Regions from separate parts of the Homo sapiens genome. Here all the other regions are linked to region 1. The links come from fine-mapping of genetic effects on gene expression. A gene starts in region 1. Each other region holds a variant in brackets. All regions are shown on one strand. Distances are from middle to middle.

Region 1 (5,145 bases):
TGTCCCCAGACTCCATTCGCCCAAAGCAGGAAAGCTCTGCTCATGGCCCGAAGACACAGTGGCCTTCCTCAGGGACATTTCCCAGACAGTTTTGTGCTTGCTCCCGTACCAAGACCACCCATGGCCTGTTTTCCTAAACCCCACATCCCAGATAGCTTGAAACTATGTTTTGGGATCTTTTATCAGAATTTCTGCTTTGTCTTCAGAATGGCTCCGTCCCCTCAAATCCCTATAAATTCCCTTTCTGGCTGAATGCAGTTTCTTTGGACAGCTTTCCTTTCTTGAGCTCTGGTTATGGCAACAGCGCCAGCCTCATCTTGCATGGCAGCCTCCCCTCGGGCCTTTTGCCTTCCAGCCACACTCCTTGGTTTTGGCATTGTACTTGCTCTAGGTCAAGGGCTTTGGAGGCAGATGGCTACATCTGAGGCCTCCTCCAGCATGTCCTGGCTGATACCTTAGGTGAGCCATTTGGTTTCCCTATTTCTGTTTCCTCATCTATAAAATGGAGATAATATTAGAAGTCACCTGGCAAGGCTGCTGTGGCTCGAGGGGGCTCCTAGGTGGGGAGCAGACTTTCACGGAGTGATGTTGGACCTGTGGAGGGGAAGACACAAGAGGCAGGAGTGGGGCTGTGATGCCATCAAGCACAGCGGCTACTGGTCCCCCACAGGGAGCTCTGCCACAGAAGTGGTCCTCAGGGCTGTCCTCGGTTGGACCAGGATGTCCAGGACTTTGCAATGTGGGCTGTCCCAGGGAAGGGTGTGACCCTGGCGAGTTGCAGCTGATGGCTGAAGGCCGCTTACCACACCCTGAACAACTGGGACACCCAGCCTGTCACTGGAGGGGTCTCCCGGGGCCTCTCATCGCAGCATCCACCACAGTTGCTGAGGTCCACATGGGCCAGGCACTGGGCTAGACATGGAACGAGACGGGGGTCCCTGACCTTACGGAGCTTCCTTTCTACTGGCAGGGACAATCAGTACCAAACAAGTAAACTCAAAGTATTAAGTGCCAGCCGGGCATGGTGGCTCAGGCCTGTAATCCCAGCACTTTGGAAGGCCGAGGCGGGTGGATCACGAGGTCAGGAGATCGAGAACATCCTGGCTAACATGGTGAAACCCTGTCTCCACTAAAAAACAAAAAATTAGCCGGGCGTGGTGGCGGGTGCCTGTAGTCCCAGCTACTCGGGAGGCTGAGGCAGGAGAATGGCATAAACCCGGGAGGCAGAGCTTGCAGTGAGCCGAGATCGCGCCACTGCACTCCAGCCTGGGTGACAGAGAGAGACTCTGTCTCAAAAAAAAAAAAAAAAAAAAAGTATTAAGTGCCAAGCTGCAGCCATGTGTTAGCTGTTGGTGGGGTTGAAGTGGCAGGCGTCAGGTGTACAAGGCAGATTTTGATCTGTGACAACCTGCTCAGGCGGTGTTCTCAAGCTCTTTGGGCCTGCGGACAGGGAGGCTGAAAGGTCTGTAAGCCCTGTGGGGAAGAGGCCTCAAGCCCTTCTCGCCTTAAGAGCTGGGTCCCATGGTAAGCTGGCAATAGGGTTGCAGCAGCCAAGGTCTCCGGGCCTGGATGAGAGGTGGGGTCGCTCAATGTAGGGCTTTCACACACACCCCTGGAACACAGAAGCCTTTCCAAGAGCCGGGGAGCCCCTGGAGAATCACAGCAGGAGTTCCACATGGATTCTGCCCTGGAATTCCTGTAGAAGGTCCTTGGATGAGGGCACGCGCCTAGCGTGTCCCCCTTGGCCACAGCTCCTTCTCCCACGTTGCTTCTCTTCCTTTATTCACCCTGGTACCTGGCCTTGGTACCTGGGCTGTCCTCCTCATCAAAGGGACAATTCAAAACTCTGCAGTTGATTTTAAGAAAGTAGGTGAATTTATTGGCTGGGAAAGACTTCATGTAGTTTTGCACTTTAGGTTACTTCTAATTCTTTGTTTGCTTCTGTCAAAATTTAAAAAGGACCTATTCAAGTGGTCAACTGACAGGTCATTAAGTACACTTGGTGATAAACTGCTGTTATGTTTTTTGCATATAAGTCAGAAAGAGCTAAAGAAATTGAGCGTCGGCTGGGAACAGCGGTTCACGCCTGTAATCCCAGCACTTTGGGAGGCCAAGGCGGGTGGATCACGAGGTCAGGAGATCAAGACCATCCTGGCCAACAAGGTGAAACTCTGTCTCTACTAAAAATACAAAAATTAGCTGTGCGTGGTGGCGCATGCCTGTAATCCCAGCTACTCCAGAGGCCGAGGCAGGAGAATCGCTTGAATCAGGGAGCCATAGGTTGCAGTGAGCAGAGATCACGCCACTGCATTCCAGCACTCCAGCCTGGTGACAGAGCGAGAGTCCATCTCAAAAAATAAAAATAAAAATAAATTGAGCGTCATTGCTAAAACAAAATTCCTCCCAATCCTATCTAACAATTTAGGTAAACAAGTTTCCTCAGTGCTAGCAGAAAAATGGAAAAAGAAAACCCAAAATACGAATATAATGTTTTTTTGGTGGGGGGGGGGGGCAGGGGAATGTAATTATTTCGATTATTTCGGACTGTGACTCATTCTAGCAATGAGTAATGTCTACCAAGAATCAATGAGCCGGCGCGGTGGCGCGCGCCTCTGGTCCCAGCACTTTGGGAGGCCGAGATGGGAGGACCACCTGAGCCCGGGAGGTCGGGGCTGCAGTGAGCCGAGATCGCGCCACTGCACTGCAGCCTGGGCGACAGAGCGAGACCCTGTCTTAAAAAAACCAAAACCCGAAAACCAAAAAACTCCACAGCGCGCCGCTTCCCCACTTCTCTGGGGCGCAGAGAGGTGAAGTTTGGCCCTCACGGTATTTACTTCCCCTGGATCCTCGCCTCCTGAGAAGCTGGTCTTGGGCTGCGGTCGGACCTCGCCGCGAGCTCCAGACCCGAGTTTCCGAGCCCGCGCTTCCCGGCCCGCAACCCTCCCAACCGCGTAGCAACGCCGCTCCTGCCGGACACCCCTGGCCCCTCCGGGGGTCTTAGTCCCCGGGCCCGGAAGTCCGCACCACTGAGAGGGGAGCCGATCCCTGGCGCTCCTAGAACGGCGCAGGAAGTTTCCCAGGCGGGGCCTCTCGCGACTTCCGGTCGCGGCGGGCTGGCGGCGGTGCAGGCTTTGTCGGCTGATCTGTGGGGCCCGCGCCGGCGGGGTCCAGTCAGCGGCTGCAGGGTCGGGCTCGCGCCGTCCTCTCCCCGCCCGCGCCGGGTGAGTGGCGCGTTCCGGACGGGGGCGGGCAACGCCTTAGCCGCAGCCCCGGCTGGCTCCGGAGCCCGGCCGCCTTGCCAGGGCACAGTCCGCCGAGAGGGCCGGGCGGGGTCCGCAGGCCGCTGCCCGCCCCGCTAGGGCGTCCAGGAGCGGGGCCTTGGCTAGTCAGTCTCCCGGACGCAGCCACGGCCGCCCCCGCGAGGCTGCGGCGTCTCTCCAGCGAGCCCGCCTCGGGCCCGAGCCTGGGGTCTTGTCCCTGAGGAGCGCCGTGTGGGTACCCCTGGTTCCCTCTCCTTCCCCCCGCCCTGAGCCCAGGCCGGAGAGCCGCGGGCTTGAGTGTCCGTGTCGCAGTCTTCAGGTCCGCCAGGCCTGCGTGAGGTTGATGCCGCAGACATGTTTTACGGTGTGGCAGGACTGGGTGTGGGCGTTCCCGCGGCTGTGCCTGAACCCTGCCTCCGCTCCCTGGGGCCTCGAGGCCTCTCGGTGCTGGAGGAGATGCAGCGCCAGCATCTTCTGTGCTGTTGGGGATAGGGGTGGGGAGGGAAACATGATGAGCAGAATTAGAATTAAGTACAAGACTTGGACCTGGAGAATTCCCAGATGGGGAGAGGTGGTGTGGCTACGCTGTCCTGCTTTTTCTTGAAGGTACCCTTTTCCCTTCGCGTCTTTAAGAATCCCAGTGGCGTTCTCTGTGCTTCTGTCAAGGCTGTCTTGCTCCCTTCACACACAGGCTACGTCATGGTCCAGGGACTCTCAGGGTCTGGGCAGCGCCTGGATGCTGGCCTCAGACTCATAGGTAGTTGGTGTGAAGCAGCTCAGGGAGCTGCCGAGCTTGTCTTCGCTGCCTCAGGGTCATGGAAGATGACCCAGGAGAGGACACAGGGGGCTCGTCGTTGTCCTTGGGCAGAGCCCTGAGCAGCATGCCGGTAGCAGAAGCCAAATGGCCTGGGTGGGGCGGGGGCAGTTGACAGCTGGCTCCAGTTCTCTGACCTTACGCTTCTTACCTCCCTGAACTTCCGGGGCATCGTGGGGAGCACTAGGAACAGAAGCGCTCCCTGCCTAGCCTGTGGCGCCCAGTAGGCCCCTTGGTGTGGCGCGGGGCAAGGAGGTCCAGATGTTAGTGGAGCTCTAGTCCACGTCTCACTCGGTTGCCCTCTGGTTCTGCTTTTCCTGTTTCCTGAGGGTGAAGCTTGGTGTATCCTGTTAATTTCTTCAGGCTGTAAGCAACACACAGTGACTCTGGCTGGGAGCTTGAGGCTGGAATTTCCCCTTACCAGTGTGGGTGCAAGAGCTGGGGGCTTCTAATGCCAGATGGGACACCCCTAGACACCCCAGAGCTGCTGTGGCTGCTGATGATACACAACATCTGCTGTTGAGACAATTTCAAGTGATATTTATTTATTTATTTATTTATTTATTTTTGAGACGGAGTCTTGCTCTGTCGCCCAGGCTGGAGTGCAGTGGCATGATCTCGGCTCACTGCACCCCCTGCCTCCCGGATTCAAGTGATTCTTCTGCCTTAGCCTCCTGAGTTGCTGGGACTACAGGCACACGGCACCACGTCCGGCTAATTTTTGTATTTTTAGTAGAGACGAGGTTTCACCATATTGGTCAGGCTGGTCTTGAACTCCTGACCTTGTGATCTGCCCACCTCGGCTTCCCAAACTGCTGGGATTACAGGCGTGAGCCACCGCGCCTGGCCTCAGGTGATGTTTTATCCAGCAAATTCTGTGTTACAACAGGAGATGGGTCCATGCTAGTCAGTTTGTTGTGTGGAGCCACAAGTCAGGTGGCTTCCTTTTTTTTGCATTTCATGTCAGTTTCTTTAAATGAAAATGTATTGATTTAATTTTACTTAAATTCATACAAGAAAAAGTTAAGCAAAAACTGAAGATAGCTATTTCCTTTTTGAGATAACTGTTTC
Region 2 (5,145 bases), 23 kb after region 1:
TTTCCAATTTATATGGACTTTGTTCCTTTTTCTTATTGTACTGACTAGGGCATCTTGTTCCGTTTTCCTTAGAATTGGTAAGAGTATGTCCTTGTATTGATATCAGGATACTGTTACTCCCAAAGAATTGCGAATTATTCTATCCTCTTCTGTTTTCTGAAGTTGTTTATGTAATATTGATACTATTATTTCTTCCTTAAATGTTTTCTTCCCTTCTTTCCTTCCTTCCCTCCCTCTCTCTTTCTCTCTCTCTTTTTTCTTTTCTTTTCTTTCCTTTTTTTTTTCTGAGACCCAGTCTCACTCCGTCACCCAGGCTGGAGTGCAGTGGCATGGTCTCGGCTCACTGCAACCTCTGTCTCCCAGGTTTAAGCGATTCTCCCACCTCAGCATCCCGAGTAGCTGGAACTACAGGTGCGTGCCACCATGCCCAGGTGTTTGTATTTTTAGTAGAGACAGGGTTTCACCATGTTGCACAGGCTGGTCTTGAACTCCTGGCCTCGTGATCTGCCCACCTTGACCTCCCAAAATGTTGGGATTACAGGAGTGAGCTACTGTGCCCAGCCATAAATTCAATTTTTTTAAACAGCTGTAACAGTTCAGGTTTTTCTATTTCTTCTTGTGCCAAGTTTGGTAACTTTTATCTCTCAAAGAATTATTCATTTCATGTAAAACAGTGAATTATTGGCATAAAGTTCAAAACATTCCACTACATTTTATTCGACATTCTATTTTAATTATATTTAAAAGGATCTCCTCTGGCAGGGCGCAGTGGCTCACTCTGTCGCCCGAGCTGGAGCGCAGTGGTGAGATCTCAGCTCGCTGCAACCTCTGATTCCTGGGTTCAAGCAATTCTCCTGCCTCAGCCTCCTGAGTAGCTGGGATTACAGGCACCCACCATTATGCCAAACTAATTTTTTCTATTTTTAGTAGAGACGGGTGTTTCACCATGTTGACCAGGCTGGTCTCAAACCCTTGACTTCATGATTCGCCTGCCTCGGCCTCCCAAAGTGCTGGGATTACAGGCATGAGCCACCGCGCCCAGCCAGAGTAGATTAATTCATCTGAGAGCTTCACCCTCATGATCCAATCACGTCTTAGACGCCACCTCTCAGTACTGCCATATTGGGGATGAAATTTCTACATGAGTTTTGGAGGGGCAGATACTCAGCATTCTGTCCAAAACTCATGTCCTTCTCAAACAGATTTGTTGCAATCCCATAGTCCCCAGATTTTATTCCAGCACTGAATCAAAAGTCCAGAGTCCAGAGTCTCATCTGTGAGCCTGTGAAATCAAATAAGTTATCTACTTCCGAGATACAATGATGGTGACAGGCAAAAGGCAGACATTCCCACTCCATCAGGGAGGGGTAAGCAATAAGAAAGGGTTAGCAGGTCCCAAGCAAGTCCAAAACCCTGCAGGGAAGGCATTAAATCCTGAAGTTGGAGAATCATCTCTTGACTCCATGTGCCACTTCCTGGACACCCCAGGGCGAGGGTTGGGTCCCCAAGGCCTCAGGCACCCCCACTCTATGGCTTTGCTCTACCTCCTATGGGTTAGAGTCTGGTGCCTGAAGCTTTTCCAGGCAAGCATGCATGCTGCCAGTGACTCCACGGTTCTTGGGTCCCAGTGGTGGTCCCACTCCCATGGCTCGCTAGACATTACCCTGGTGGGGACTCTCCAGCACCTCCAACTCATTTCCACTCAGCATTGCTTTAGTGGGGGTTCTCTGTAGTGCCTCCACCCCTGCTACAAGTCTCTGCCTGGCCCCTCAGCTTTCAGTGGTATCCTGTGCAATCTGGATGGAGGCTGCCAAGCCTTCACAGCTCTGGCTTTCCCTAAGCCAGCAGAACTAGCACCACATGGATGCCACCAAGGTTTAGGGCTTGTGTGTTCTGGAGTGAGGCATTCACATCTGGGGCTACTTGAACAACGGCTGTGGTGCCCAGAGCAGAGTCCTAAGGTGGCCCTGGGTGAGCTTGTGGAGGGCTCCTGGGGTCTGTCCCCCGAAAACATTCTGCCTTCCTAGGCCTCTGAGCCTCTGATGGGAGAGGCAGCCTCGATAATCTGAAATGCCTGCTGGGACTTAGTTTCATTGTCTTGGGAGAATTGCACCTGGCTCCCTTCTACCCAAGCTAATTTCTTTCACAAACTTCACTGGGCTATACCCTTGGTTTCCTCTGCTGAACATACTTTTACTCTACATGGCCAGGCTGAGTTTTCCAAATCTTTCCACTCTGCTTCCTTTTAATTTATAAATTCTGTTTTTAAACTATTCCTTTACTCTCAAAGCTCAGCATAAGAGGCCAAAAGTAACCAGCAGCTCCTTCTTTTTTTTTTTTTTTTTTTTTTTAAGATGAAGTTTTGCTGTTGTTGCCTAGGCTGGAGTTCAATGGTGTGATCTCGGCTCACCGCAGGCTCTGCCTCCCGGGTTCAAGCGATTCTCCTGCCTCAGCCTCCCGAGTAGCTGGGATTACAGGCATGTGCCGCCACACCCAGCTTATTTTGTATTTTTAGTAGAGATGGGGTTTCTCCACATTGGCCAGGCTGGTCTCGAACTCCCGACCTCAGGTGATCCGCCTGCCTTGGCCTCCCAAAGTG[T/C]TGGGATTACAGGTGTGAGCCACCACGCCCGGCCACCAGCAGCTCCTCTTTTTTTCTTCCAGATATCCTAGTTCATCACTCTTAAGTTTGACCTTCCTCAAAGCCCGAGGCATGGACACAATTCAGCGAAGCTCGTTGCCAATTTATATTAAGGATGACCTTTACTTCACTGTCCAACACTTTGTGCCTCCGTTCCATCTGAAACTTCATCAGAATGGCCTTTATAGTTCATACTTCTATCTGCGTTCTGGTTGTGACCACTTAATGGATCTCTAAAGAGGTCCAGTCTTTCCCTAGTCTTGTCTTCTAAGCCCTCACCAGAATCTAGGCCTTTTCTAGCCTGCTCCCCCAAATTCTTGCAGCTTCTGCCCATTACTCAGTTTCAAAGCTGCTTCTACATTTTTGGTTATTTTTTATTAGCAGCACCTCACTCTCAGTACCAATTTTCTGTCTTAGTCCATTTTCTGTTGCCTACAACAGAATCCCTGCAACTGGATTATTTATGTTTGTCTGACAGAATCTCACTCTGTTACCCAGGCTAGAGGGTAATGATGCCACAATAGCTCACTGCAACCTCAAACCTCTGGGCTCAAGTGATCTTCCTGCCTCAGCCTCCCGAGTAGCTGGGACTACAGGTGTGCGACACCATACCTGGCCTGAAACTGGGTAATTTATAAAAGAAAAGATTTTATTTCTTACAGCTATGGAGGCAGAGAAGTCCAAGGTCAAGGGGCCGCATCTGGTGAGAGTCTTCTTGCTAGTGGGGACTCTGCAAAGTCCAGAGATGGTGCGGGACATCAATGGTGAGGCGCTGAGCATACTTACGGGATAGCTCAGGTCTCTTCCTCTTCTTACAAAGCCTTCAGATCCCCTCCCTGGTAACCCATTGATCTATTAATCCACAAATGAGAGCAGAGCCCTGGTGATTCAGTCACCCCCTTAAAGGCCTTACCTCTCAGTACTGCCACATTGGAGACTGGAGATTAAATTTCTTTCCTTTTTTTTTGAGATGGAGTTTCACTCTTGTTGCCCAGGCTGGAGTGCAATGACGTGGTCTTGGCTCACTGCAGCCTCCGCCTCCCAGTTCAAGTGAGTCTCCTGCCTCAGCCTCCCGAGTAGCTGGGATTACAGGTGCCCACCACAATGCACGGCTAATTTTTTGTATTTTTAATAGAGATGGGGTTTCAACATGACGGCCAGGCTGGTCTCAAACTCCTGACCTCAGGTGATCTGCCCCCCTCAGCCTCCCAAAGTGCTGGGATGACATGGACATGAGCCACCATGCCTGGCTCTTTTTTTTTTTCCAAAAAAAAAAAAAAAAGGGTCTCGTTATGTTGCCCAGGCGGGTCTGGAACTCCTAGGCTCAAGCAATCCTCCCGCCTTGGCCTCCTCCCAGACTACTGGGATTACAGGTGTGAGCCACCATGCTCGGCCAAGTTCTTTCAACTTTTATCTTTGGAAAATATTTTGATTTCGCCTTCATTTTTGAAGGATGTTGCTGGATATATAATATGTAATTTACTTTGCCTCTGAGTGCTTGTAAGATTTTCTCTTTATCACTGGCTTGTAGCTGTTTGATTATGATGTGCCTTGGTGTGGCTTTCTTTGTTTTTATCCTTCTTGGGGGTTATTGATCTTGGATTTGTAGCTCTATTATTTTCGTTTTATTTGGAATCTTTTCCATCACAGTTTCTATTTTTTTTTTTTTTGAGACGGAGTTTCACTCTTGTTGCCCAGGCTGGAGTGCAATGGCACGATCTCGGTTCACCGCAACCTTTGCCTCCCAGGTTCAAGCAATTCTCCTGCCTCAGCCTCCCGAGTAGCTGGGATTACAGGCGCCTGCCACCACACCCAGCTAATTTTTTTGTATTTTTAGTAGAGACAGGGTCTTGCCATGTTGGCCAGGCTGGTCTTGAACTCCTGACCTCGGGTGATCCACCCGCCTCGGCCTCCCAAAGTGCTGGGATGACAGGCGTGAGCCACCGCACCCAGCCCACAGTTTCTTACAATGTTTTTCTGCCACCCTCCCACACCAAGAGGAATTCTAATTTTATTTATTTATTTTTGTTTTCATTATTATTTTTTGAGACAGAGTCTCACTCTGTTGCCCATGCTATAGTGTAGTCTCATGATCTCTGCTCACTGCAACCTCCACTTTCCAGATACAAGCAATTCTCCTGTCTCAGCCTCCCGAATAACTGGGACTACAGGTGTCCACCACTACGCCCGGCTAATTTTTGTATTTTTAGTAGAGATGGGGTTTCACCATGTTGGCCAGGCTGGTCTCAAACTTCTGACCTCAGGTGATCCACGCAACTCGGCCTCCCCAAGTGCTGGGATGACAGGCGTGAGCCATCCCTCCTAGCCAGGAATTGCAATTTTAGGTGAAATTTGCTTCCTGTTGCCCTCGGGGCACTGTGGCCCTGTTTGCTGGTGCCTTCCTGCTCCTTCACTCGCCTTCGGGGCGCTGTGGCCCTGTTTGCTGGTGCCTTCCTGCTCCTTCACTCGCCTTCGGGGCGCTGTGGCCCTGTTTGCTGGTGCCTTCC
Region 3 (5,139 bases), 650 kb after region 1:
AAGCACAGGACACGCGGGCAGATGCACGGGCGCCATGGCAGGGCAGGGCCTCGGCCCCTCAGCTAAAGCACAGGACACGCGGGCAGGTGCATGAGCGCCACAACAGGGCAGGGCCTCAGGCAGGGACTTGGGCAGCCAGCAGCGTGGGGAACTCTGAGGACCGCCCCACCAGCCCGGCCGGCCTTGCCACCTCAGGCCCTGCTGGATGACGGAGCACACAGACCACAGACAGCGGTACTTTGGAAAACACCCTGCATGGGGCAGCCAGTTACGCGGTCACAGAAACCCGAGCAGGGCAATGGGCAGGACAAGCACACACTCAGCAGTGCAGAGGACCTGGTGCTCCAGGGGCCAGGAGACAAGCAGCGAGAAGAGAAGATGGCGCCTCCCTAGACTCCGCAGACACCTCTAGTACCTTTCAAGTACTTGGATATGTTATTATGCGAAAACATTGTTTTGGTTTTTGAGGCAGAGCCTCACTCTGTCACCCAGACTGGAGTGCAGTGGTGAGATCTCGGCTCACTGCAACCTCCGCCTCCCAGGTTCAAGTGATTCTAACGCCTCAGCCTCCCGAGTAGCTGGGATTACAGGCACGCGCCACCACGCCCAGCTAATTTTTATATTTTTAGTAGAGACAGGGTTTCACCATGTTAGCCAGGCTGGTCTTGAACTCCTGAGCTCAGGTGATCCATCCACCTTAGCCTCCCAAAGTGCTGGGATTACAGGCGTGAGCCACCACGCCCGCTGAAAGAATTTAATAAAAAAATCATTAACATGTAAATGTGTAAATCCTTAATTTAAAAAGGGACAGAAGACCCAGAAAGATGTACACCAGACCACTAACTGTGCTCACGGGTTAGGTGTGAGGGCCCTGAGTGGGAGCTTCCACCCTACTGAATGGTGCTGCTACAATATCTACATTATTTTCCAGGATGTTTTATCTCATAATTTTTTTTTGAAACAGGGTCTTGCTTGTCACCCAGGCTGGAGTGCAGTGGCTCTATCATAGCTCACTGTGACCTGGATTCCTGGGCTCAGGAGATCCTCCCACTTTGGCCTCTCGAGCTGCTGGGATTACAGGTATGAGCCACTGTGCCTGGCCCAGTATTGTATCATTTTAAAAACTCAAGAAGGGGTAACGTAGTTGTCCATAATCTTACAAACCACTGCCAACACAGCACATCATTTTTTCTCTGTGTATGTTAGTGGTATAATTAAAGCCTGAATTAAGTGTGATTTTAAATCTTTTCTTCCCAGCAAACAAGCCAACCCAACACAGCTAGCACACAATGAACAAGCCATGGTTCCTTGGCTTCTATCACGGGGACCTCTGCCAAGGCCGTAACTTCCAGAACACCGAAACTACTGGGAGAGTAAATCCTTACAAACGATTTCCAGAATGTTTAGAGTAACAAATGCTGGGCTGGGCGCGGTGGCTCACACCTGTAATCCCAGCACTTTGGGAGGCCAAGGCAGGCAGATCACTTGAGGTCAGGAGTTCGAGACCAGCCTGGCCAACATGGTGAAACCCCGTCACTACTAAACATACAAAAAAAAATTAGCCGAGCCTGGTAGTGGGCACCTGTAATCCCAGCTACTCAGGAGGCTGAGACAGGAGAATTGTTTGAACCCAGGAGGTGGAAGATGCAGTGAGCCAAGATCGCCCCACTGCACTCCAGCCTGGGCAACAGAGCAAGACTCTGTCTTAGAAAAAAAAAAAAAAAATAGGCCGGGCGTGGTGGCTCACCTGAGGTCAGGAAATCGAGACCAGCCTGGCCAACACGGCAAAACCCTGTCTCTACTAAAAGTACAAAAATTAGCCGGGCGTGATGGCATGTACCTGTAATCCCAGCTACTAGAGAGGCTGAGGCAGGAGAATTACTTGAACCCAGGGGATGGAGGTTGCAGTGAGCCAAGATCACACCACTGCACTCCAGCCTGGGCGACAGAGTGAGACTCTGTCTCAAAAAAATAAAAAATAAAAAAAAATAACAAATGCTGTGTTTTAGTTAAATTATGCTTTTCTCCTGTTGTTCTCAATAAGAGTAGGGTGCATCCTCCCCCACCATCGCTGCAACAGGTACAATGTTAAACCCTCTACCCGTCGGCTGCTCAGGCCCCTGAAGCCCTGTGGGGTCAGGCCCAGCTGGGTTCCGTTGGGGCCCCCATGCCGCCTGCTTGAGCCCTGCCATGCTGCTCAGCTCCCTCCTCAGCTGGGTCCTGCCACTGGATTCCAAGCAGTAAAATCCCCACCTCAAGGAAACCCAACCTGTTGCCAGGAGGGTTGCCCGAGCATCGTCTGACGGGGAAGGGCCTAGGCATGTGGATTTTCAGAGTTCCTGGGAACGGCACGCAACTGGGGATGGAAACCAGCGTCCTAGAGCCCAAGCGTGCCCCAGGTGCAGTGAAGGAGGGACGCCGGCCTTGGGGTTCTGAGGGACGGTGGAGAAGGCAGTACAGTGGCAGTCTCAGAAAGCCCAAGGCCACCTGCACATGGGGGACAGCCCTCGAGGGGGCTCCTCGCTCACCCACCTGCACCTGCTCCTCAGTGGTCTTTTTAATCCCACTGTGGCCCTCGTCATCAAGGGCTCCGTCCTCTCCCTCCTCGTCGCCTTCGTCATCATCCTCACTGCTGTCACTGCCGGAATCTTCCAGGCCTGAGAACACACT[T/C]TCCTCGCTGTCGGAGACGCCAGAATCGCTGCCGGTGCTGTGGCTGAGAGGAGAGGTGCAGAGGAGGGGGGGCTGCAAGGAAACACTGGGTTGGTGACAACTGCCCCTCCAGGCATGGGGCACTGAACACTGCAGGGAGAGCTGCCTCTCGCCCCTCCAGCCACCCACCAGCAGCTCCATGTGGCCTCCAGGACCACACCCCTCCAGTCACAAACTTCCACCAAAAGCATCCACCCAACCTGAGCCTTCCTCATCTTCTACCTCCACTGACAAGACAGCCTCTTGCCTTTGCCATCGACATTTTAATTCCTAGCACCTCACAGGGAAGGGGCTTTTCAAGGACAACCTCCTCCTCTTGGAGCTCAGCTCTCATCGCAAAACTAACACTGCTCTCTACCACCCACTGACACTCCGGAGGCCCTGTGGGGTCAGGCTGGGCTGGACTCCACTGGGTCCCTCAGACAGCCTGCCTGAGCCCTCTCCACACCTCACCCTGGCATCCAAGGCCCCAGAGCCAAGAGGTCACTAGAAAAGGGGCTGGGGGCTGGAAGAGAAATGGGTCCCCAAAGGGCTTTTACCACCTGAAGCAGACGCCTCCTCATTTAACCAGATTGGGACCAACGATTGATCAGTAAATTGAAAGGATTGGCTGAAGAGTCACAGGAATGATAGAGACTCTAACCGCAACCACGCACCAACCCACCCACTCCTCTCTCTGAGCAGGACCACAGCTGCCTCTGAGCAGAGCCCTGCTGGCTGCGTGACACCGGCACACACAGTGTTCGGGTCCTTCACTGGCCTTAAAGGGTGGAACAAGAACTTAGACTCTTAGGAAGCAGTTGAAGGCCAGGCACAGTGGCTCACTCCTGTAATCCCAACACTTTGGGAGGCTGAGGCGGGTGGATCACCTGAGGTCAGGAGTTCAAGACCAGCCTGGCCAACATGGTGAAACCATCTCTACTAAAAATACAAAAATTAGCTGGTGGTGGCGGGCACCTCTAATCCCAGCTACTCAGGAGGCTGAGTTAGCCAGGAGGTGGAAGCTGCAGTGAGCCAAGACTGCACCACTGCACTCTAGCCTGGGCAACAGAGCCAGGCTCTGTCTCAAAAAAAAAAAAAAGAAAAAAGAAAGAAAAGGAAAAGAAAAGAAAAAGGAAGCAGTTGAATGCAGAATTCTAGATTTTACTGTTTTCCTAATAGTTTACAAGTCTCACTTAAGGTACGACCTGCATGTATTAGCTATTGCATACCGAGTGTTCACACAATGCCTCTCTCACACAGAGTCATGATGTGTCTTGGTATTCAGTCGGCTACACAATCACAATAACTAGTGGAAATGGCATCCGTGGCCTGGGCGCAAACAACTGGCTCCTGAGGACCGTTTAGTCCAAGGGTGGAAGTCGCAGAACCTGGCGCCTAGAGTGGCCTGCGGGCCATTCAGCCCATGGGAGCCAGGATGAGTTGAATTCGCTTCACAAAGCAATGGGGCAGTTTCAACAACCCAGCGCGGCCGCGGCCGAGGGGGCTGTGAGGGGCTGGCTGTCCATCCCCTCCACCACCCAATTTGATGATCCCCACAACCAAGACAGGGCTGAGCTAGCAGAGAGCAACAGTGAGTTCTAATACAGCAAATGCAGCAGACACTGGGTTCTATTCAGGTTTTCTTATTCTCATGTCTATCCCATGAGCATAAAAACGCAATTAACTAGCGTATACGTAGGTTAAGCATTTACTGGGAGCGCAAGCCGAGCCCTTTTATTGGCAGGATGCACAAATGGAACGGCTGGAGAGGCTGCTGCAAGGGGCGCCCCGTCCCCACTCCCCGCTCCCCCGTTTCTTTGCTTCCCGGACGCCGTCCTTTACCCCGCAGTCCGCTCTGCCTGAGACCCCCCGATAGAGGAGCTGCACCCACGCCCAAGACCGATTCACTGGGCGCGGGCGCCCAGGTGACAGAAGCCGGGCCCACCCGCCCCAGCGCGGCCACGTGCCCGCCGGGCCCTCTAGGGACGCGCCCCGCCGCCCCGCATCGCCACAGTCACCTCCGGCTCGGGCTCAGGCTCCAGTTCGGGCTCAGACCGCCGCTTCTCCGGCCGCACGCTCGGCGCCGCCGTGCGCCCCGCACCCCGCGAACCCGCCATGCCCCACCGCGCGCCGGCCGCCACCCGCACAGCCGCTTCCGACAGCGACCGGGCCGCGTGCGCAGGAGGACGCGCCCCGCCCAGCCCGGCCCCGATTGGCGGGTGGAGGGAAGGGGGTGGGACCAACACGCGCAGGCGCGCGGCTGGGCCGGGGACCAGGGCGGGGTCGGGGCCTGCGTGCTCGCGCCGGGGGTGACGCGGGAGGGCGGCAGCGGCGGCGGCGGGAGCGCGCCCGTTGCAAGATGGCGGCGGCCATGCTGGGCCCCGGGGCTGTGTGTGCGCAGCGGGCGGCGGCGCGGCCCGGAAGGCTGGCGCGGCGACGGCGTTAGCC
Region 4 (5,145 bases), 31 kb after region 1:
TGAGCACCTCCCAGGCCTGCAAGCTATTTGGGGATTGTCTGCTGTCAGCTCCCCGTGGCTTGTGGCCTGGCCCCATGGTGTGTGCAGCTTAACGTTCATCCAAACACTCATGGCAGCACTGGGGACTTCCTCTTCATGGGTCCCAGTTTCTTTCTCGTACTGGACCCCATAAATGCGAGCCTTCTGTACCTCCCCAGAGTCCAACCTCTGCCTCCTCAACTTAGTGAGTTGATACCATGCCTGTGTTTCCCCTTCATATGCTGTATTCTAGAAAATGCCACCAGGCAGAGAGCTGGCATCATGGGAGGTGCCCCCCCCATCTCCATCCTCCTGGGCAGGTCACAGCACTGCACCCTCCAACATCTAACAGCAGCTGTTGCATGGATTTTGTCCAGCTTTCTAGTTTAGGGCAGGAGGGCAAGTCCAATACTTGTTAATCATGGCTGGAAGGGGAGGTCACTGTACCATTTTTTATGTAACCGGTAAATATAAATTGGTAAGGAGTTGACAATCCTATTAATTTGGAGTCAGCTACCTGGTGGCTATCAGTCTCATTCTCTCTCCTGCCCACCTTTCCTGCCTGTGTTCCTGGCGTTCTTTTTGAAAGCAGGCTGCAAGCAGTCACATCGTCACCCTGGGGCATTTCCCTGTGCTTTGTGCTGCCTGGAAGAGCTCATAGCCAAGGAAGGGTGAAGACGGCGCGCTGCGGTGTGCGGCTTCTAGGCTGTGGAGCTCTAGTGTTGCCTTTTGGGTTCAGGGACCCACTGGGCCACTGTGAGGTGGGCTGGAGCTGCATTTCACCGACTGCCTTGCTGCAGGAGCCCTGCTCTGACTGGAGGGCCACAGAGCACACCGGGCCCCCCCGTAAGCCAGGTACGAGACTACCCGTCTCCTGCAGCAGGGCTCGGGGACCTCCCCATGGAGCCACAGGCATGGGCTTGGGGAGAGGCCCAGTGGAGAATAGAGGGTGGCACGGGGACCTGGGCCATCCTTGTGCCTTCTGGACCTGCCCAAGCCCAATCTTGGACTCCACTTCCATCTCCCAGTAAACTCCTGACGGCCCCTTGGATGTGCGACTGGTAGCTCCGACAGCACCCAGTCACGATGGGCAGCGCCAGTCTCATAAACACCGTGGCCTCCACGGTCAGGGCCCGAACACTTGCCCGCACCACCTACCAGCTGGTGGAGTCCCCTGAACATGACGGGGCCCTGCGCCGGTGGCCTTGGGCCTGGGCTGCACATCCTGCACTGAGGCTCGTCATGGGCGCCACTCGTGTCTTTGCCACACATGTGAAGCCTGTGGGAACTTCACGGCCACATGACCCACGTGGCAGGACTGCCTGTCACCCAGCCTGGGCCTGCCTCAGCCCCTTCCCTTGCTCCAGACCCCACTCAGAGCCGACGGCTTTCCCTCTCCCCCGCCAAGGGCAGAACATATTGCCTTCAAGCCCAAAGAGGCATCGGGCCTGCCCCAGCACCCTACAGGCCACCGCACCCTGAGAACATTGCTCATGGGGCAGGTCTCTGAAGTGTACGGAGTCTGCCTCCTGCCCTCCACAGCGCCCGTGTTTTTCTGAGGCCATCAGCGCACCTGCTATCTCTGCATGAGTCCAGTGCCCATTAAGGCATCCACTGAATGGGCCAACCTTTGCTCGTGGACCATCCAGTGGGTCAGGCCTTTGGGCCATGTTGGGACGAGGCACCCCACTCGGTTCTGGAGCGACCGTACCTGTGTGCCGCTGTTGGCCCCGCGTGGGCAGGAACTGCTCCGATTCCCCTTCCAAACAGGTTTCGGAAATGATGTGTTTATCAGACCAGTAGCCAAAAACCACATGCACGTGGCCACATCAGTCTCTTCTGGAAAGACCATGTGGATGGCCACAAGCGTGCCTCAGCTACTACTGTTTAAGCCTGTGGTAGTCCACTGCTGTCCACCACGGTCATGCAGCTTCCGCAGGGGTTGGGTTTCCAGATTGTAAGG[C/T]GGGTGGGGACAGGCAGATGGGGACAAGGGGGACAAGAACAAGAGGGACAGGGACAAGGGAGTGTATGGGGACAAGGGGAATGGGGATGAGGGGGATGGAACAAGGCGGGTGGGGACAAGAGGGACAGGGATAAGGGGGATGGGGACAAGGAGGGCAGGGTAAAGGGGGATGTGAATTAAGGGGACAGGAACAAGGTGGATAAGGGGACGGGGACAAGAAGGATGAGGACAAGGGGGATGGGGATGAGAGGGATGGGGATAAGGTGGGCGGGGATGAGGGGGACAGAAACAAGGGGGATGGGGATGAGGTGGGTGGGGACAAGGGACAGGAAGAAGGTGGGTGGGGACGAGGGGCACAGGGACTAGGGGCACTGGGACGAGGAGCCTGGGGACGAGGGGGATGGGAGCAAGGCGAGTGCGGATCTTTTACGTCTTCACAGGTGGCCTTAACGCCTGCCATTCTCCACAGAGGGTAGAGTTGCAGGAGCTTCCACTTTGATTTTCCCACTACAAGACTCACTCTGTTGATCAAGGAACCAGTTGAGGTTTTGCCCAGTTGCCAGGTGTGTCCAAAGTGATTTTGTTCCTTTCACAGGACATTCTGCCTCCCTGACAGCGCGGGGGATGCTTCCATGGCCTCCACAAGTTATAAAATACTCCAACACCAGTAGTATGTTAGTTACACCAGGGTGCCATTAAAAATACTGCAGAGTAGGTTACTTAACAACAGAAATTAATTATTCTCTCACAGTTCCGGAAGCCAGAAGAGACTAAAGTGTCCCAGGTTGGGTTTTGCCGGAGGCTCCTCTCCTTGGCTTGCCGATGGCCGCCTTCTTGCTGTGTCCTTGTGTGGCCTCCCTCCCTCCTCCGTGTGCACACACATCCCATGCTGTATCCCTGCGTGGCCTCCCTCCCTCCGTGTGCACACACATCCCATCCTGTGTCCCTGCGTGCCCCTCCCTCCTCTGTGTGCACACACATCCCATGCTGTGTCCATGCGTGGCCTCCCTCTCTCCGTGTGCACACACATCCCATCCTGTGTCCCTGCGTGCCCCTCCCTCCTCTGTGTGCACACACATCCCATCCTGTGTCCCTGCGTGCCCCTCCCTCCTCCGTGTGCACACACATCCCATGCTGTATCCCTGCGTGCCCCTCCCTCCTCTGTGTGCACACACATCCCATCCTGTGTCCCCGCGTGGCCTCCCTCCTCTGTGTGCACACACATCCCATGCTGTGTCCATGCGTGGCCTCCCTCCCTCCGTGTGCACACACATCCCATCCTGTGTCCCTGCGTGCCCCTCCCTCCTCTGTGTGCACACACATCCCATGCTGTGTCCATGCGTGGCCTCCCTCCCTCCGTGTGCACACACATCCCATCCTGTGTCCCCGTGAGGCCTTCCTTCCCTCCATGTGCACACATATCCCATCCTGTGTCCCTACGTGGCCCTCCCTCCTCCGTGTGCATGTACATCCCACGCTGTGTCCATGCGTGGCCCTCCCTCCTTCCTCCATGTGCACATACATCCCATGCTGTGTCCCCTCGAGGCCCTACCTCCCTCCATGTGCACACACATCCCATGCTGTGTCCCCGCAAGGCCCTCCCTCCCTCTGTGCAAACACACATCCCATGTCTCTCTGTGCATCCAAATTTCCTCCTCTTAGAAGGACCCTAGTCAGATCAGGTTAGGGCCCACCCAAAGGCCCCATTTTAACTTTACTACCTCTTTAGAGGCCCTATCTCCAAATCCAATCACATTCTCAGGTACCGGGCATTAGGTTCAGCATTTCAATTTGGGGGGAAACAAATCAACCCATAACAGGTGGATTTCCCAAAGCCTGCATTATTCAATTGTAATCAAACACACATTATTATGTATTTTCCCTGTAAAATAAGAGACAAGATCCAGGCTTGGTGGCTCAGGTCTATAATCCTGGCACTTTGGAAGGCTGAGGCAGGCAGATGCCCAGGAGTTTGACACCAGCCTGGCCAACATGGCAAAATCTCGTGTCCACAAAAAATACAAAAATTAGCCAGACGTGGCGGCATGCACCTGTTGTCTCAGCTACTCAAGCAGCTGAGGTGGGAGGATTTCTTGAGCCCAGGAGGATGAGGTTGCAGTGAGCCAAGATCGCACCACTGCTCTCCAGCCTGAATGACAGAGTGAGACCCTGTCAAAAAAAAAAAAAAGGCAAGGTTTTCTTCCAAGTGGGAAGAAAGATGGTGGATAGGATTTTTACGGAGTGTTGAAAGAGCTACTTGGAGAATCAGAAAGAAGATTAGTTGTTGGGAGGCACAGAGTGAGTACTGAGAAAACCAAGGGCCCAACTGAGGCTTGAAACTGCCAATTCTCCATTTACTGTCTTTCAGCTTCAAATACATACTTCATCGCCTGCTTGGTGAAAATGGAGCTGGGCCCTAAATTGTTTCTCCTTTAAAGCAGGTATGACGTTAAGCTTTGTAAGTAGAGGGCACTGGAGGGACCCTGCAGGAGGAAAGTGCTTCTCTTCCTGTTCTGCACTTTCTTCTGTTTTCTTCTTGTTCCTGCCATGTGGCTGCCAGCACACTCAGTGTTGCTCACCCCCAGCCAACTTCACTTGCAATGCCATGGGTGGATCCCCGTGAGTCTTGCAGATGCTCCACTGGTCAGCATCCAGCCTCAGCCTGCCCCAGAGAGGTGTTTCCTGCTTGCCAGTCCTGGCCAGGCTCCCTACCTGCCACCTTCAACCCCTCTACACCTGCAGGAGTGATTGCCCATTGACTGTGGACCAGCTCTGGCTACGGGAAAACCAGAGAACCTCTCCATCATCCATACTGCACCAAACAGCATCTCTGCAACCACACCTTTTCCAAGATTTGAGCCCCAGCCTTGGGGAGGAGGCCATCTTTCACATTTTCTCCTTCCTTGGGAACTCTCTGTCAGCCCAGAGTATTCTTTTGCATTATCTTTAGCCCTGTACAGATAATTCCATTATAGTAAATAATCCTTTATATTAAACGTTCCTTGCCCAAATGACTGTGCAGTTTCTGTCTGCTGATTGATTGCGCCCTGATGCAGAAAGGTAAAGTAACTTGACATGTTGCACAGCTGGCCCACACAATCACACAGCTGAGACTGCACAAGGACAGCTTCCTCTCAAATGTGTTGGAAATAAGAGCTTGGAGT

The links. PIP is the estimated chance that this variant, and not a neighbour inherited with it, causes the effect.
Region 2: its variant is fine-mapped to the expression of ZNF623 in whole blood (INTERVAL, PIP 0.98).
Region 3: its variant is fine-mapped to the expression of ZNF623 in gastroesophageal junction (GTEx, PIP 0.98).
Region 4: its variant is fine-mapped to the expression of ZNF623 in gastroesophageal junction (GTEx, PIP above 0.99). The same link has a PIP of 0.9 or more in monocytes after Pam3CSK4.

The regions. Positions count from the first base shown.
Region 1 is chr8:143,632,925-143,638,069 of GRCh38, forward strand. ZNF623 (zinc finger protein 623) reads left to right here and starts at 3,095. Exons shown (of 2, transcript NM_001261843.2): 1 at 3,095-3,221. It overlaps LOC105375798 (a long non-coding RNA gene), which reads right to left and starts at 980. Exons shown (of 3, transcript NR_188083.1): 1 at 526-980.
Region 2 is chr8:143,656,409-143,661,553 of GRCh38, forward strand. No RefSeq gene overlaps it. Among named protein-coding and RNA genes, the nearest start is that of ZNF623, 23 kb to the left of the region's middle. The variant T/C (reference allele first, on the strand shown) is at 2,600.
Region 3 is chr8:144,286,563-144,291,701 of GRCh38, forward strand. It overlaps BOP1 (BOP1 ribosomal biogenesis factor), which reads right to left and starts at 4,876. Exons shown (of 16, transcript NM_015201.5): 1 at 4,710-4,876; 2 at 2,533-2,742. The coding sequence starts at 4,808. It overlaps HSF1 (heat shock transcription factor 1), which reads left to right and starts at 5,042. Exons shown (of 13, transcript NM_005526.4): 1 at 5,042-5,139. RefSeq lists a silencer at 4,620-5,119. The variant T/C (reference allele first, on the strand shown) is at 2,671.
Region 4 is chr8:143,663,496-143,668,640 of GRCh38, forward strand. It overlaps LOC105375799 (a long non-coding RNA gene), which reads left to right. Exons shown (of 4, transcript XR_928737.3): 1 at 1-873; 2 at 2,422-2,544; 3 at 4,350-4,422; 4 at 4,724-4,992. Among named protein-coding and RNA genes, the nearest start is that of ZNF707, 18 kb to the right of the region's middle. The variant C/T (reference allele first, on the strand shown) is at 1,982.